Linked DNA regions of Homo sapiens: region 2 is linked to region 1. The links come from fine-mapping of genetic effects on gene expression. Tissue or cell type: whole blood. Region 1 holds a variant in brackets; the other region holds the start of a gene. All regions are shown on one strand. Distances are from middle to middle.

Region 1 (8,261 bases):
ACCATTATGTAATGTCCTTGTCTTTTTTTTTTTTTTTTTATCTTTGTTGGTTTAAACTCTGTTTTGTCAAAAACTAGGATTGCAACCCTTGCTTTTTTTCTGCATTCCGTTTGCTTGGTAAATTTTCCTCCCTTACTTTTTTCTGCTTTCTGTTTGCTTCGTAAATTTTCCTCCATCCCTTTATTTTGAGCCTGTGTGTCTTTGCACGTCAGATGGGTCTCTTGAATACAGCATACCTATGGGTCTTAACTCTATCCAGCTTGCTGTTCTGTGTCTTTTAATTGGGGCATTTAGCCCATTTACATTTAAGATTGTGTGAATTTGATCCTGTCATCATGATGCTAGCTGGTTATTTTGCAGACTTGCTGATGTAGTTGCTTCATAGTTTCATTGGTCTTTGTATTTCAGTGTGTTTTTGTAGTGGTTGGTAATGGGTTTTTCCTTCATGTTAGTGCTTCCTTCAGGAGCTCTTGCAAAGCAGGCCTGGTGGTGATGAATTACCTCAGCATTTGCTTGTCTGAAAAGGATTTTATTTCTCCTTCACTTATAAAGCTTAGTTTGGCAGGATATGAAATTCTGGGTTGGAAAATTCTTTTATTTAAAAATGTTGAATATTGGCCCCAATCTCTTCTGGCTTGTAGGGTTTCCACTGAGAGGTCCACTGTTAGTCTGATGGGCTTCCCTTTGAGGTGACCTGGCCTTTCTCTCTGGCTGCCCTTAACCTTTATTTTGACCTTGGAGAATCTGATGATTATGTGTCTTGGGGTTGATCTTCTCGTGGAGTATCTTACTGGGGTTATCTGGATTTCCTGAATTTGAATGTTGGCCTGCCTTGCTAGGGTGGGGAAGTTCTCCTGCAAGATATCCTGAAATATGTTTTCCAGCTTGGTTCCATTCTCCCGTCTCTTTCAGGTACCCTAATCATTTGTAAGTTCAGTCTTTTTACATAATCCCATAGTTCTCAGAGGTTTTGTTTGTTCCTTTTCATTCTTTTTTTCTCTCATCTTTTCTGACTGTCTTACTTTAGCAAGTTAGTCTTAAGCTCTGAAATTCTTTCCTCCGCTTGGTGTATTCAGCTATTGATACTGGTGGTTGCACTGTGAAGTTCTCATGTTGTATTTTTCAGCTCCATCAGGTCATTTATGTTCCTCTCTAAACTGGTTTTTCTGGTTAAGGGCTCCTGTAATGTTTTGTCATGGTTCTTATCTTCTTTGCATTGGGTTAGAACATGCTCCTTCAGCTCAGCGAAGTTTGTTCTTACTCACCTTCTAAAGGCCACTTCTGTCAGTTCATCCGTCTCAGCCTCAGCCTAGTTCTGAGCCCTTGCTGGAGAGGTGTTGCAATCATTTGTAGGAGAAGAAGCACTCTGGCTCTTTTGAGTTTTCAGCAATTTTTCATTGATTTTTTTCTCATCTTCATGAGTTTATCTAGCTTCGAGCTTCAAGGCTGCTGACCTTTGGATGGGGTTTGCGTGGGGACTTTTTTGTTGATGCTGTTTTTGTTTTTTCTTTCCGTTTGTTTGTTTTTCTTTTAACAGTCAGGCCAAAAAGCATATGAAAAGATGCTCACCGTCTTTTTTTTCAAGCGTATGAAAAGATGTTCACTAATCACCAGGGAATTGCAAATCAAAACCACAATGAGCTATCACCTTATGCCCATTGGAATAGCTACTATCAAAAAAACAAAAAGTGGGCTGGGTGCAGTGGCTCACGCCTGTAATCCCAGCACTTTGGGAGGCCGAGGCGGGCAGATTACCAGTTCGGCAGATTATGAGGTCAGCAGTTTGAGACCAGCCTGGCCAACATAGTGAAACCCTGTCTCTACTAAAACTACAAAAAAAAAAAAAATCAGGTGGGTGTGGTGGTGGGTGGCTGTAATCCCAGCTACTTGGGAGGCTGAGGCAGGAGAATCACTTGAACCCGGGAGGTGGAGGTTGCAGTGAGCTGAGACCGAGCCACTGCACTCCAGCCCAGGCAACAGTGCGACACTCTGTCTAAAAAAAAAAAAAAAAAAAAAAAAATTATCAAGTGTCAGTGAGGATGCGGAAAAACTGGAACTCTTGCAAACTGTTGGTAGGATTGTAAAATGGTGTACTGCTATGAAAAATGATATGGAGGCTCCTCAAAAAATTAAAAATAGAACTACCATATGATACTGCAATCCCACTTCTGAGTATATATCCTAAAGAATAAAAAACAGGATCTCAAAGAGATATCTGCATCCCCATGTTCATTATGACATTATCCACAATAGCCACGATGTGGAAGCAACCTAAATTTCTGTGGATGGATGAATGGATTTAAAAAACGTAGTATATACATACAATGAAATGTCATTCAGTCTTTTTTAAGAACCAGAAATCCTGTCATATACTATACCAACGATAACCCTGAAGACATCATGCTAAATGAAATAAGCCAATCACAAAAGGGGAAATATTGCATGATTCCACTTATAAGAAGTACCTAAAGTAATCAAATTCATAGAGACAGAAAGCAGAATGGTGGTTTCCAGGAGCTGAGGGGAGGGGAAATGGGGAGTTGTTGCTCAACGGGATGGAGTTTCAGCCATGGAAGAGAAAAAAGTCTGGGAGAACTCTCGTACAACAATGTACATATAGTTAGCAATATTGTGACGTACACTTAAAAGTTGTTAAGAGAGGGCTGGTGCAGTGGCTCACGCCTATAATCCCAACACTTTGGGAGGCCAAGGCGGCAGGATTGCTTGAGCCCAGCAGTTCAAGAACAGCCTGGGCAATATGGAAACACCTCTTCTCTACTAAAAATCAAAAAAGAGGCCAGGCGCGGTGGCTCATGCCTGTAATCCCAGCACTTTGGGAGGCAGAGATGGGCAGATCACCTGACCAACATGGAGAAACCCCGTCTCTACTAAAAATACAAAATTAGCCAGGCGTGGTGGCACATGCCTATAATCCCAGCTACTCGGGAGGCTGAGGGAGGAGAATCACTTGACCGGGAGGCAGAGGTTGCGGTGAGCCAAGATCGCGCCACTGCGCTCCAGCCTGAACAACAAGAGCGAAACTCCATCTCAAAAATAAAAAAATAAAAATAGTTAGCCAGGTGTGGTGGCACACACCTATAGTCCCAGCTACTCAGGAGGCTGAGGTGGGAGGATTGCTTGAGCCCAGAAGGTCGAGGTTGCAGTGAGCCATGTATGTGCCACTGCACTCCAGCCTGAGTGACAGAGCTAAACCCTGTCTCAAAAAAGGAAAAAAAAAAAAAAAAATAACAGAAGGGAGTCACCACACTGAGGCTAAGAGGCAGCTACAGCCCCTGGCCCTTTCACTCTTGCACCCCAGGATCATTGCTGAATTGACTTGGTTTGGGTATTTTACCTTCCTTAGCAAGGAAAGGGCACTTCCATTGGCAGGCTCTTCCATGGCTCTTTCAGGCTCTCAGGCTGCTCATCTGAATCCCACTGTGCCCCTTCCACACGTCTCTGCTGAGCCTATCTTTCTGGGCTACTGTGAACACAAGCTCTGGCTTAGCCATCTCTACTCCTCCAGAGCTTGGCTGCAAGCTTGGCTTAGAGTGGGCAGCCAACCAGTGTCAAATGGATCCCAAAGAAATTGGGTTTACTCGGCTCAATGGCAAGACTCAGTTAAGCCCCTCCAGTCTCCCCAGCTGGAAGAAATGCCCCTTCAGCAAAGAACACAGGGGAGAAATAGAGGTGACATTATCTCCAATTGACAAGTGACTACACAGAGGTCCAGAGAAGTTGGCAGCTTGTCCAAGGTCACCCAGCTAGTTAATGGCAGAGCTGGGACCAGCTTCCACAGTCCTGGCTCCAGGCCTGGTGTTCCTTCAGGGACACACACACAAATCACCATCACTGCCCTCAAACAGGCAGATTTCTCTATTAGGCAAGACAGGCCCAGGCCTAGTGCCTATGAGCTTTACAAGGGTCCAAGAAAATGTACTGGCTCCTAAATTTAAAAAGAAAACAGCAAAATTAATAAAAGTAAATGTTTATGAGCTGTAAAGCTGTCATCTGCAGTTGAGCTCAGGTCTTCTTTACTTATTTTTCGCTTATAACCAAGTGCCCCCATTTTTCTATGAAAAAGAGAATGGAAGCCAGGTGCAGTGGCTCACACCTGTAATCCCAGCACTTTGGGAGGCCGAGGTGGGTGGATCACCTAAGGTCAGCAGTTCGAGACCAGCCTGGCCAACATGGTGAAACTCCGTCTCTACTTAAAATACAAAAATTAGCTGGGTGTGGCGGCATTCGCCTGTAATCCCAGCTACTTGGGAGGCTGAGGCAGGAGAATCACTTAACCCAGGAGGCAGAGGTTGCAGTGAGCCAAGATCACGCCATTGCACTCCAGCCTGGGGAACGAGAGTGAAACTCTGTCAGAAAAAAAAAAAGAAAGAAAAGCCAGGCACGGTGGCTCACGCCTGTAATCCCAGCACTTTGGGAGGCCGAAGCAGGCGGATCACGAGGTCAGGAGATTGAGATCATCCTGGCTAAAATGGTGAAACCCCGTCTCTACTAAAAATACAAAAAATTAGGTGGGCGTGGTGGCAGGCGCCTGTAGTCCCAGCTACTTGGGAGGCTGAGACAGAAGAACGGCGTGAATCCGGGAGGCGGAGCTTGCAGTGAGCCAAGATTGTGCCACTGCACTCCAGCCTGGGCAACAGAGCGAGACTCCATCTAAAAAAAAAAAAAAAAAAAAACAAAGAAAGAAGAAAGACAGAGAGAGAGGAAGGAAGCAAGAAGGAGTTATTTTTAATTATTTTTTCTCTTCTCTTTCCTCTATTTCCCTATTATCTACATCCCACTTGTCCCTTTAGAAATGCAGTTATAACCTTTCACTTTCCCTTCACCAGACACTCCCTACAGGGCAAGTTTATCTAACTTCGTGCTTAGAAGCTCCAGGGTGGAACTCTGTCCCACCAGGGGACTGCCTTGAGAGACAACAGTCCATTTACAACCCAAAGCATGCCTGCTATGAAACTCTCTCCCACCTGGAGAGTTTTGGCCACCTTCACAACCCAGTTCTGTCCTCAAAGACGCCAACTCTCGGCCACCTGGTAGATAAGGCACCAAAGCAAGTACACAGCCCCCCACCTGCCTGCTTCCTCCC[A/G]TGTGCCATTCATGTCTGTGTGCCAGGCACCCTTTAAAAGTACCCACCTTCCACGCCAAAAGTGAAGTGATACTCTTTTTTTTTTTTTTAGAAGGAGTCTTGCTGTGTTGCCCAGACTGAGTACAGTGGCATGATCTCAGCTCACAGCAACCTCTGCCTCCTGGGTTCAAGTGATTCTCCTGCCTCAGCCTCCTGGGTAGCTGGGATTATAGGCACCTGCCACCATGCCTGGCTAATTTTTGTATTTTTAGTAGAGATAGGGTTTCACCATGTTGGCCAGGCTGTCTCGAACTCCTGACCTCAGGTGATCTGCCTGCCTGTGCCTCCCAAAGTGCTGGGATTACAGGCATGAGCCACTGCGCCCAGCCCAAAGTGGTAGCCTTTTTTGTTTTTGCTTTGTTTTGCTTTGATTGTTTTTGAAACAGAGTTTTTCTCTTGTGGGCCAGGCTGGAGTGCAATGGCGTGATCTCAGCTCACCACAACCTCCGCCTCCTGGGTTCATGTGACTCTCCTGTCTCAGCCTCCCGAGTAGCTGGGATTACAGGCATGCGCCACTACGCCTGGTTAATTTTGTATTTTTAGTAGAGAAGGGGTTTCTCCATGTTGGTCAGGCTGGTCTTGAACTCCCGACCAAGATGATCCACCCGCCTTGGCCTCCCAAAGTGCTGGGATTACAGGCTTGAGCCACCTCGCCCAGCCCCAAGGTGGTACTCTTAAGGTAAGAAGCCTGTACCTCTTCCCCTAAGCTAGTTTTGAAATAAAAAGTCACTTTACTTATACCAGACCTCACTCTTATTATTTGGACTCTGCAAGTGGCAGGCAACTGAACCTGTGTTTTGGTTACAATGCTGCATGTGGAATGTGGGCATGTTTTAACGTGTTTGCCCTGATGTGCAGTGGGGCCTCCCAAATCTGAGTGCTGGGCTCCTAGAGGTCTTCACACAGATCCACATACAGCTCTGAAGTCTGAATGGTGCAGGCCTGAGTGTCCCAGCTGAGGTCACTGTACTCTGGTAAAATCAGACACCAGCAAGCGAGAGCAGAGAGCAATTGGTAAAAACTCTTCCTGTCTCCAGTGAGCCCTGGGGCCCAATGCCATTCAGAAGTGCTCATCAACTCCATTTCCTTAATTTGCTTAAACAACCATTAAGATTTAGACACTCCAAGAGGCAGTACTGGCTCAAGCAAGACCCAGTCAGACAAAGCTCAAGACCTTTTCACAATGCTTGTGAGATGCGGCAGGGCAGGGGGTCCTAACTTTACCCCTGGAAGAAGGAAGCCTGCAGCTCTGGAGGATGCTGGAAGACAGCCAGAGGATGAAGCCCGGTGGATGGGAGCGGATCTGAGAGAATCACAGAGAAACGGGGCCCGAGCCCTGATGGAACCACGTCTAAAGTCCACCTCGTCTGGGCTTTTCAACTCCACAAGTCAATAAATCCCCCTTGTTGCTTAATCTATTGTGGGTTGGGTTTTGTTGCTTGAAAGCAAAATCATCCCGACTGATGTGAGACCTCCCAGCTCTCTCCTCCATCCACCCAGGGCACCATCTCAGAAGCCATGTCTCTCCAGAGCGATTTTCCCTGGAGTATTTTTCACAGGGGTTGGTCTGGAGGCAACTGCACTCAGCCCTTCCATCCTAACACTGACAGTGATGACAGCCCATCTGAAATTCAGGACCTTTTCAGAAATATCCTCCTTCCCTGGGAACGGCAGAGAGTAAGGACATGCAAGAAGCCTGGCTCGGGTGGGATATCTGTGCCAAGGACTGATCACACAGCAAGACAGAGCTGCAGCATCCAGCATTTTTATTTATTTATTTTTTTGAGACGGAGTTTCACTCTTTTTGCCCAGGGTGCAGTGCAATGGTGCGATCTCAACTCACCGCAACCTCCGCCTCGTGGGTTCAAGCGATTCTCCTGCCTCAGCCTCCCGTGTAGCTGGGGTTACAGGTGCATGCCGCCACGTCTAATTTTGTATTTTTAGTAGAAACGGGGTTTCACCATGTTCGCCAGTCTAGTCTCAAACTCCTGACCTCAGGTGATCCGCCCGCCTCAGCCTCTCAAAGTGCTGGGATTACAGGCGCGAGCCACCGCGCCCAGCCCAGCATCCAGCATTTTTGTTGTTCCCCCTTATTCCCTCCATGCCTTGCTAGGGATAACCTGGTAAACAAACAGAAATCTCAAATTCAATAAGCACCCCCATTTGATAAGCATTTACTAAATCCCCATATGGGAGGCACCATGGGCAAACAGTGGAATGACAAGTGGATAACAGGATGGAGCCGAATGATCTGGGCAGTGGGTGGGGACAAGGAGCGGTTCAGAGTGTGGGCTCTGGACTGGAACAGCAGGTGTGTGTCCTTGGGCAAGGTACTTTGTAGTTCTGTGCTTCAGTTTCCTCATCTGTCGAATGACATGTTTGGCCTATGTAGTAAGGGGTCAAGAAGTATCTGCTTTTATTAATAAGTATTAGTTTTTATTCTTACTTGATTCATTTTTAAGAAAAGAGTCTGAGTCTAACCCACCCAGCTGGGTGGAGCTTGGGCCTGAGGACCCCTGCCCTTGGAATACAGGAGTTTTGGGCTAAAGAGCTGACCAAGCTGGTTGGGCTTAAGGCAAACTCCAGAGACCAGTTCCAACTCCCGAGGCTCCCATTCCAGGCTCTTAAGGGGAAACTGCAGGATGGGCCCTCCGTTACCTGGAGTTAAGTGCAAAGAACCATCTCTCACGGGGCAGTACTGGCTCAAGCGAGACCCAGTCAGACAAAGCTCAAGACCTTTTCACAACGCTTGTGAGATGGGGCAGGGCAGGGGGTCCTAACTTTACCCCCCGTTTCGCCCCCCAGCAGGGCAAGGATTCCCCTTTCTCACGATGATTCAATCACATCCAACCAGAGTCTTAGCTGAGGCCCTGCCAGGTGCCAGGGCCTGGTCCCATTCCTGGGAGCAGAGATGAAGACCAGCTTCCTACAAGCCTCCTATGATGCCTTCCTACGAGCCTCCCCTATGATGATGCAATGGCACAGGGCCTCCTGTCACTCAGTAAAGGCCGAAGGAATAAACATTAGCAGGAATAAGAGACAAGCTCTGAATCCAGGAAGACTTCTCGGCAGAGGCAGGATCTGGACTGCAGCTTGGAGAAAGGGTGGATCTTTGATA
Region 2 (8,000 bases), 32 kb after region 1:
GATCCTCCCCTGGCCTGTCTGGAGCCTGGGCGGCCACAGGGACCCGGAACAGCCAGAAGGGGGAACTCACCCAGCACGAAGGAAATGGGGATGAGCTGGATGTAGCTGTCGCAATACAGAGTCAGTTTCTCAAACATCAGCTGTTGTTCTTCCGTGAGGGCCAGCCTGGGGGTGGGGGTGGGGGTGGAATTGTGTGGACGCAGCGAGGAGATGGCTGAGACTGTCCCCAGGTCTAGCCCGGCCCTGGGTAGGAGTGGGACTGCCTCGATGCTATCCCACATTTTCCCCAGCCCAGGGCCCCTCCTGAGGCCTGAGCCAGGTCCATGATGCTCCTTGTACAGCCCCAAACCCGGACAGGAGGAGGCCCCCTCCAGTGGTTTCTTGTGGGGAGAATCCTCACACTGGCCACTGGGAGATGTGTAGGAAGGAAGGTCCTGCTGCAGAGGCCAGTTTCAGACACCCTGATCCTTTGAATGCAGCCAAGGGTCAGTTGTTTAAAAGCAGGTCGAAACAGAGTGTTTGGGACGGGCACGGTGGTTCACGCCTGTAATCCCAGAGCTCTGGGAGGCTAAGGCAGGACCAAGAGTTCAAGACCAGCCTGGGCAACATAGCAAGACCCTATCTCTACAAAAAATTAGTTGGGTGCCGTTGCCGTATGCCTGCAGTCGTAGCCACTGGAGGCTGAGATAGGAGGATCACTTCAGCCCAGGAGTTGGAGGCTGCAATGGGCTGTGATTGCCATTGCACTTCAGCCTGGGTGACAGAGCGAGACACTGTCTCTAAAAAGAAAAAAAGAAACAGAGTGTTTGGCTTTAATGAGAGGGGTGAATAGGCAGAGGATTTTGTTAGAGCAGTGAAACTACTCTGCCTGATGCTGTGATGGTGGAGACATCATTACACATTTATCCAAACCCATGGAATGTACAGCCCAAGAGTGAACCCTGCTGTACGCTATGAACTTTGGGTGATAGTGATGTGTCACTGTGGGTTCAGGGATTGTAATAAATCTACCACTGTAGTGTGGGGGTGTTGATAGTGGGGAGGCTGGGGGCAGGGGGAGGAGCAAAGAGACACATGAGAACTCTACCTTCTGCTCAATTTTGCTGTGAACCTAAAACTACTCTAAAAAATGAAGTCTGACTCTTTTTCAGCATGCATTAGTGCCCAAGTAAAAACCAAAGACCAATGTGCTTTGTATTTGGTATTAGGAGGAACTTAAGAATTTTATGTATTTGATGTTTTATAATCCATTGTAGTCATTAGTGCTTTTTCAATTTAAAATGCTATCATATATTCGGTGATTATATCTGTCCTTTATTTTATTGTTTAGATAAATGTTTTTGGTTTATTGGTTTTTGTTTGTTTGTTTGTTTGTTTGTTTGTTTTGAGATAGGGTCTTGCTCTGTTACCCAGGCTCAAGGGCAGTGGCACAGTCATGACTCACTGCAGCCTCAACCTCCTGGGCTCAAGCAATCCTCCCGCTTCAGCCTCCTGAGGAGCTGGGTGGGACTACAGGCATAAGCCACCATGCCCAGATCATTTTTTGATTTTTATTTTATTTTTAGACGGAGTCTCACTCTGTCACCTAGGCTGGAGTGCAATGGCATGGTCTCGGCTCACTGCAACCTCTGCCTCCCGGGCTCAAGCGATTCTCCGGCCTCATCCTCCTGAGTAGCTGGAACTACAGGTGCGTGCCACCCCACTCGGCTAATTTTTGTATTTTTAGTAGAGATTGGGTTCACTATGTTGGCCAGGCTGGTCTTGAACTCCTGACCTCATGATCCACCCGCCTCGGCCTCCCAAAGTGCTGGGATTACGGGTGTAAGCCAAAGGGCCTAGCCAATTTTTTAATTTTTTATAGAGACAGGATCAGGATCTCCCTATGTTGCTCAGGTCCTAAACTCCTGGGCTCAAGTGATCCTCCTGCCTTGGCCTCCCAAAGTGCTGGGATTACAGGTGTGAGCCCCTGTGGCTGGCCCTAACTTTTTTTAAAGTACCTTGGTGCCCTAGTAAAAACCAAATGTGCCTTGTTGCTAGCATTATTAAGAACACAAGAATTTCATGTATTTGATATTTTACAATCCATGTAATCATTAATGCTTTTTCAATTTAAAATGCTATCATATATTCTGTGATTATATTTTATTGTTTAGATAAACATTATTTTGTTTGCTTTTGAGATAGCCTGTCACTCAGGCTGAAGTGCAGTGGTGTGATCATAGCTCACTGCAGCCTCGACCTCACAGGCTTCAGCCATCCCCACACCTCAGCTTCCCAAGTAGCTGGGACCACAGGCAAATGCCACCACTCCCAGCTAATTTTTTAAATTTTTGGTAGAGACGGGGTCTCACTATGTTGCCCACGCTGAACTCCCAGGCTCAAGTGATCCCCGCACCTTGGCCCCTCAAAGTGCTGGGATTACAGACGCGAGTCACTGCTACTGGCCTTAGATAAACATTTTAATTAAAAAATAATTTTAAAAAATGTACCATGTGGGCTGTGCATGGTGGCTGACACCTGTAATCCCAGCACTTTGGGAGGCCGAGGTGGGTGGATCACTTGAGGTCAGGGGTTCAAGACCAGCCTGGCCAACATGATGAAACCCTGTCTCTACTAAAAATACAGAAAAAAAAAAAAATTAGCCAGGCGTGGTGGTGTGTGCCTATAATTCCAGCTACTCAGGAGGCTAAGGCAGGAGAATCGCTTGCACCTGGGAGGCAGAGGTTACAGTGAGCCAAGATTGCCCCCACTGCACTCCAGCCTGGGTGATGGAGTGAAACCCTGTCTCAAAAAAAAAAAAAAAAAAAAAAAAGTACCATGTGGTTGGTCAAGTGCAGTAGCTCACACCTGTAATCCCAGCCCCTTGGGAGGCTAAGGCAGGGGGATTGCTTGAGCCTAGGAGTTCGAGACCAGCCTGGACAACACAGTGAGACTCCATCTCTCTCTCTCTCTCTCTCTCTCTCTCTCTTTTTTAATGTACTATGTGGGCCTATGAGTCTGTGTGGGATTCAGTAAAACAGGCCAGTTGAGTGGGGCCAGACAAAGCCTGGGCTCCAGGGGTCCTCCTGGGGTTGGAGGAAGGGTGGCTAAAACCCTGCTGGCCTGGCTTGAGCAGCCTCTCAGTCTGACTTCTTTTCTCTCCCCAGCCCCCAGCCCCAGCCTCAGCTCCAGTGCCCAGGACCTGGTCAGGAGCTCAGCTTAGTCTTGTAGTGAACTGGTACACTGGCCCCTGAGCTGGCTGGGAGGCCCCCAGGAGCTCCCAGCCCCAGCCACATCCTTCCCAGGCCCCCCGGCCCAGCCCTGCCAGCTTTACCTATAAATAAAGCGGATGATGTAGTAGCAGAGCAGGAAGATTAAGAACTCGCCATATAGCAGCTTGTAGATGCTGCCCCGCCAGCACAGCAGCAGGCGGGAGAAGGAGCCTAAGCGGGCATTAGCCACTTGGCTTGTGTAAGTGATGGTCATGGCCAGGCAGTGGGCTGCAGCAGGTGGGCTTGGGTCCTGGTAGAGAGGGACACCGATTGGGGGTTTGTAGGGATCAGAGGCCCTGGTCAGAGCCTGTCAGGACCCTTCCCTGCTCTGGACCTCAACTCTCCCATAGGGACCCTAGGAGGTGGATGAAGTGGTCTCCAAGGCCCTGCCAGTTCTGACTGCCTTTTGGAAGTAGAAACGCAAGAAAGTGAGCCCAGAGGCTGCCCTTTGCTTTGGCAGGGAAGACGTAGATAGGCGTGTGCATTGCCATGTGCCTTTAACTTTCTATAATCACTGGGCGCAGTGGCTCATGCCTATAATCCCAGCACTTTGGGAAGTCGAGGCAGGTGGATCACCTAAGGTCAGGAGTTCGAGACCAGCCTGGCCAACATGGTGAAACCCTGTCTCTACTAAAAATACAAAAAAATTATCCAGGCGTGGTGCGGGTGCCTGTAATCCCAGCTACTCAGGAGGCTGAGGCAGGAGAATCGCTTGAACCCAGGAGGTGGAGGTTGCAGTGAGCTGAGATCACGCCATTGCACTCCAGCCTGGGTAAGAAGAGCAAAACTCTGTCTAAAAATAAATAAATAAATAAATAAATAATACAATGACAAAGGCAGTAACAGCAGCAATGTCTACACACTAAGCTCAGGTCCTCTGGGCTAGGCAGTGTTCTCAGCCCATCTTGTTCGTTAGCTCCCAAGCTCTCTCAACCACCCTAGTGTGAGAAGTATGGAAGGGACCAGGCAGCCCTGTCCACCACCATATTCCCATTCCCATAATGGAACCTAGCTGGTAGAGATGCTCAAATGATGTTTACTGAATGGTGGCTCCAGGGCCTTTCCACCTGCTGATCTTCCTGCCTGGAGGAAGCTCTTCCTGAGATACCTGCATGGTTCCTTCCCACTCCAGGTTCCCTTTAGAAAGGATGTTCCCAACCATCCAACCTGGAAATAGAGCCCCACTGCCACCGGTGCTCTGTGTCTCCTCACCTTGCTTGATATTTCTAGAGAGCACTTATCACTACTTGAAATTATACAGGATATCTGCCTGTTTCCTGCCTGTTTCCTCCTCAGAATGGAAGCTCCTCTTGTGTTCTCGTAGAAGGCGCTCAATAAAAATTTACTGAAGCAGTGATTGATGCCCCCTCCATTCTTTCCCTGTGTGTTTTGCTGCAGCCACACTGGCTGGCTGTGCCTGATGCACACCAAGCTCATTCCCACCTCAGGGCATTTGCACAGACACACAGGTGCCCACACACCTGCGCATGTGCTGCCTGTGTGTGCATATCCCACACAAATACGCAAGATGGCCATCCAACCCTGAAGGCCTCAAAGCCCCAGCCCAGTCCACCTGGGGCACCTTGTACTCACAGGTGGGGTTCCAGGTGGGTCCGATGATCCCACAGAAGGTCTGGCGACTAGGCTGGTGGGACTCCCTGGGACTCTGTGGCCAGTGCCCCTGCCCACTCTTAGAGGCTGGCACTGCCCACGTGAGTGCTGAGCCGCCGTCACTTGACTCCCTAAGCCAGGACCTCCACAAAGGAGTCCTTGTCTTAGTCCCTTCTTGTAATCTGCTCAGAAGCAACGGCTAGCACAGCCTGGCCATGGCCCCTCTAATTTCTTCTTGGAGGGTGTTGGGCTGAGACCAGGGCTGGAATTTAGGGCAACACCCCCTCTACCATGGCCCTAAAATCCAGAGGCTAAAGGATCTGCTCCACCAGTGTTCTGACCCCTGAGGCCTTGCAGAGAGAGTTGGGGGTTAGGGGGCTGTGCTGAGCTTCAACTTCTGTGCCAGGAACTCTCCAGGAAGGAGGAGCCTCTGACTAGGCCCTGGGGTCTTTGACAGCCCTGTGGGCTATGGAAAGAATGAATACCGGGCTGCAGTCAACAGTCCTGGTTTCTGGTCCCAGCCTTGCCACCTGTGTGTGGTGACCCCGGGTAGGTTTCAGCTCCTCTCTCAGCCTCAGTGCCCTTATCTGAAAAGGATGGTGTTGCTTGGGAATTTCATCACCCTAGTAAAATGACAGAATTCTGCATATGCTGACGAGGAGCTCTGATTGGCTGCTGGTGACATCATACGTTATTCTGGCTGTGATTGGCTGGCAGGGCCCATCAGTAAGTTGCTTCAGAGAGATGGAAGGAGAAGCCTGCCGGGGCTGGTGGAGGGGGGTGAGTCTGGTGGGGGTTGACAGAACAGCCCTGGAGTTTATGCTGCTGGCTTCCAGCCAGCCAGTGCAATATGGGAATAAATGCCCAGATCCCCACGGGCAGCTGGTGAAAATCTCAGCATGTGATTCAATAAATTTTAATACATCAATCCATACTCAAGGGCTCTCCTAAGCTGTTGGAAGTGGTGGGTGTCTACCTACACACTCCTCTTGTATTGTTCAATGAAGAGAGCAGAGCTCTAGGCAGCAGTGGTTCTTGGTCTTTAGAGGCCGTAAGAATCGCCCAAATGTTTATTAAACGGGCAGTTTTCTGGATCTTTCTCCAGAGTCTGAGTCTGTGGCCTTAGGGATGTTGCATTTTAATCAAGCACTGCAGGGGATTATGAGATGTGTGGTTTTGGGACTAAACTTCCAGAAGCCCTGATTTTATAATATGACCTTGTGTCTTAAACCCACTCTCATCCTCCCTTTCCTGTCACCCTCTCTCTCTGAAATGTACTAAGCGTTAACTATGCTGAGATTGCAGGTGATTTTTCTACACACCACTTTTTTTTTCACTTTAAGTTCTGGGATACGTGTGCAGAATGTACAGGTTTGTTACATAGGTATACATGATGTGCAGGTTTGTTACATAGGTATACGTGTGCCATGGTGGTTTGCTGCACCTGTCAACCCATCATCTAGGTTTTAAGCCTTGCGTGCATTAGGTATTTGTCCTAATGCTCTCCCTCCCCTTGTCCCCCACCCCCACACACCATTTTTGCCTTTATATAATTATCTGCCTAGAAAAAAAAACACTATTTCGCAATGACCTTGAATACTTTTCTAATCATGGCAAACAATAAAGCTGTTGTTATTATAAGACTCTCTTTAGAGGCAGCCTTGTAGGAGTATTTACTGCCTCCCCGCTGCCCCATCGCTGTCCTCAACTGATATGGGGAAAGAAGCAGGTTCACTTCAGCCTCAGTCTCCTCATATGCAAAATGGGACAACGATGCCTACCTTGGCAGCCGAATGAGAATGATGGATGGGACATGTGTCCGTCAACTCTCCAAACCACTGGTGCCTGTGCCTGACCCCTACGAATTCTGATTTGATTGGTCTGGATGGACCCCAGGTGTTGGGATTGTTCAAGTTCTCCAGGTGATTCTGATTTTATGGCCTGTGCTGAGTCATTGCTTAATGGATTATTTCCCTATCCTGTATTCCCTTCCCAACCAACACATCCTGAAACTCAAGAGCTTTCCATTTAGAAGATGATAAATATATATTATATATATTTATATATTAACATATGTAAATATGTATTAATATGTCTATAATATTACAAATATATTTGTATGTACACATATATTTATACATATAAATATATAAGTAAATATATAACTATATTTTTGAGACAAGGTCACCCAGGCTGGAGTGCAATGGGTGTGATTTTGGCTCATTGCAACCTCCACTTCCCAGGCTCAAGCAATCCTCCCATCTCAGCCTCCCAAGTCGCTGGGACTACAGACGCACACCACCACACCCAGCTATTTTTTTTTTTTTTATAGAGATAGGGTCTCACTACATTACCCAGGCTGGTATTGAGCTCTAAGTTCAAGCAGTCCTCCCACCTAGGCCTCCCAAAGTGGTGGGATTACAGGAGTGAGCCGCCACACTCGGCCAATAAGTATGTTTTAACTAAAGTTAACACACATGCCTGGCACCATGCCTGGAACATTGATGCTCATTCTGTACTCTCTGAAGGAATAAATGAAAATCCTGCCTTTGTGGAGACAAGTTCTTGCCTTCCCTGTGGTGGCCACTAGAGAGCGTGCTTGACTAGCTGGCTCTGGCTGGGGAAGCCTGGTTCACTGGTCAGGATCAGTGCAGACCACGGAGCTGGCACTGCTTCATCTCCCTGACCCCGACCAGCAGCCATAGAGCCATGAGAGGGAGTTGGAGACACTAGAGTCCCTCCTCCCTGTTCCCTGAACCGCAGGCTCCTTGGCAATATCCCAGGAGTACCACCAGGACCATAGACAGTGCATGGCCAGTCTCCCTTCCCCTCCCAGAGGCCCCAGCATGTCCCCAGAGACATCCCATGAGCAGCTGCTCCTGGCCCTGCCCCAGAGCTGAGACAGGCACACCCTGGCACAAGTCATGGTCTCTCCTACTGGGTCTCAGCTATGAAAATGTCCCCAGTTAGCCAGGCACGGCTCAGGCACACAGCAAAGTCATGAGTGCTGATTGACCCAAGCCATGCCTGGAACAAGAGTCCCAGGATTGACCCCTGCAGAGATGGCACCCAACCCAGTCAAGGTCGCCCTCTTCTGCTTTCCGTTCCGCAAAGAAAATATTCGCCAAACCATTTCTC

Evidence for each region. PIP is the estimated chance that this variant, and not a neighbour inherited with it, causes the effect.
Region 2: it holds the start of BEST1, and the variant in region 1 is fine-mapped to the expression of BEST1 in whole blood (TOPMed, PIP above 0.99).

Annotation. Positions count from the first base shown.
Region 1 is chr11:61,979,138-61,987,398 of GRCh38, reverse strand. No RefSeq gene overlaps it. Among named protein-coding and RNA genes, the nearest start is that of FTH1, 16 kb to the right of the region's middle. The variant A/G (reference allele first, on the strand shown) is at 5,105.
Region 2 is chr11:61,947,272-61,955,271 of GRCh38, reverse strand. BEST1 (bestrophin 1) reads right to left here and starts at 4,921. Exons shown (of 11, transcript NM_004183.4): 1 at 4,845-4,921; 2 at 3,314-3,501; 3 at 71-165. The coding sequence starts at 3,465. It overlaps LOC107984334 (a long non-coding RNA gene), which reads left to right. Exons shown (of 2, transcript XR_001748245.2): 2 at 1-1,353.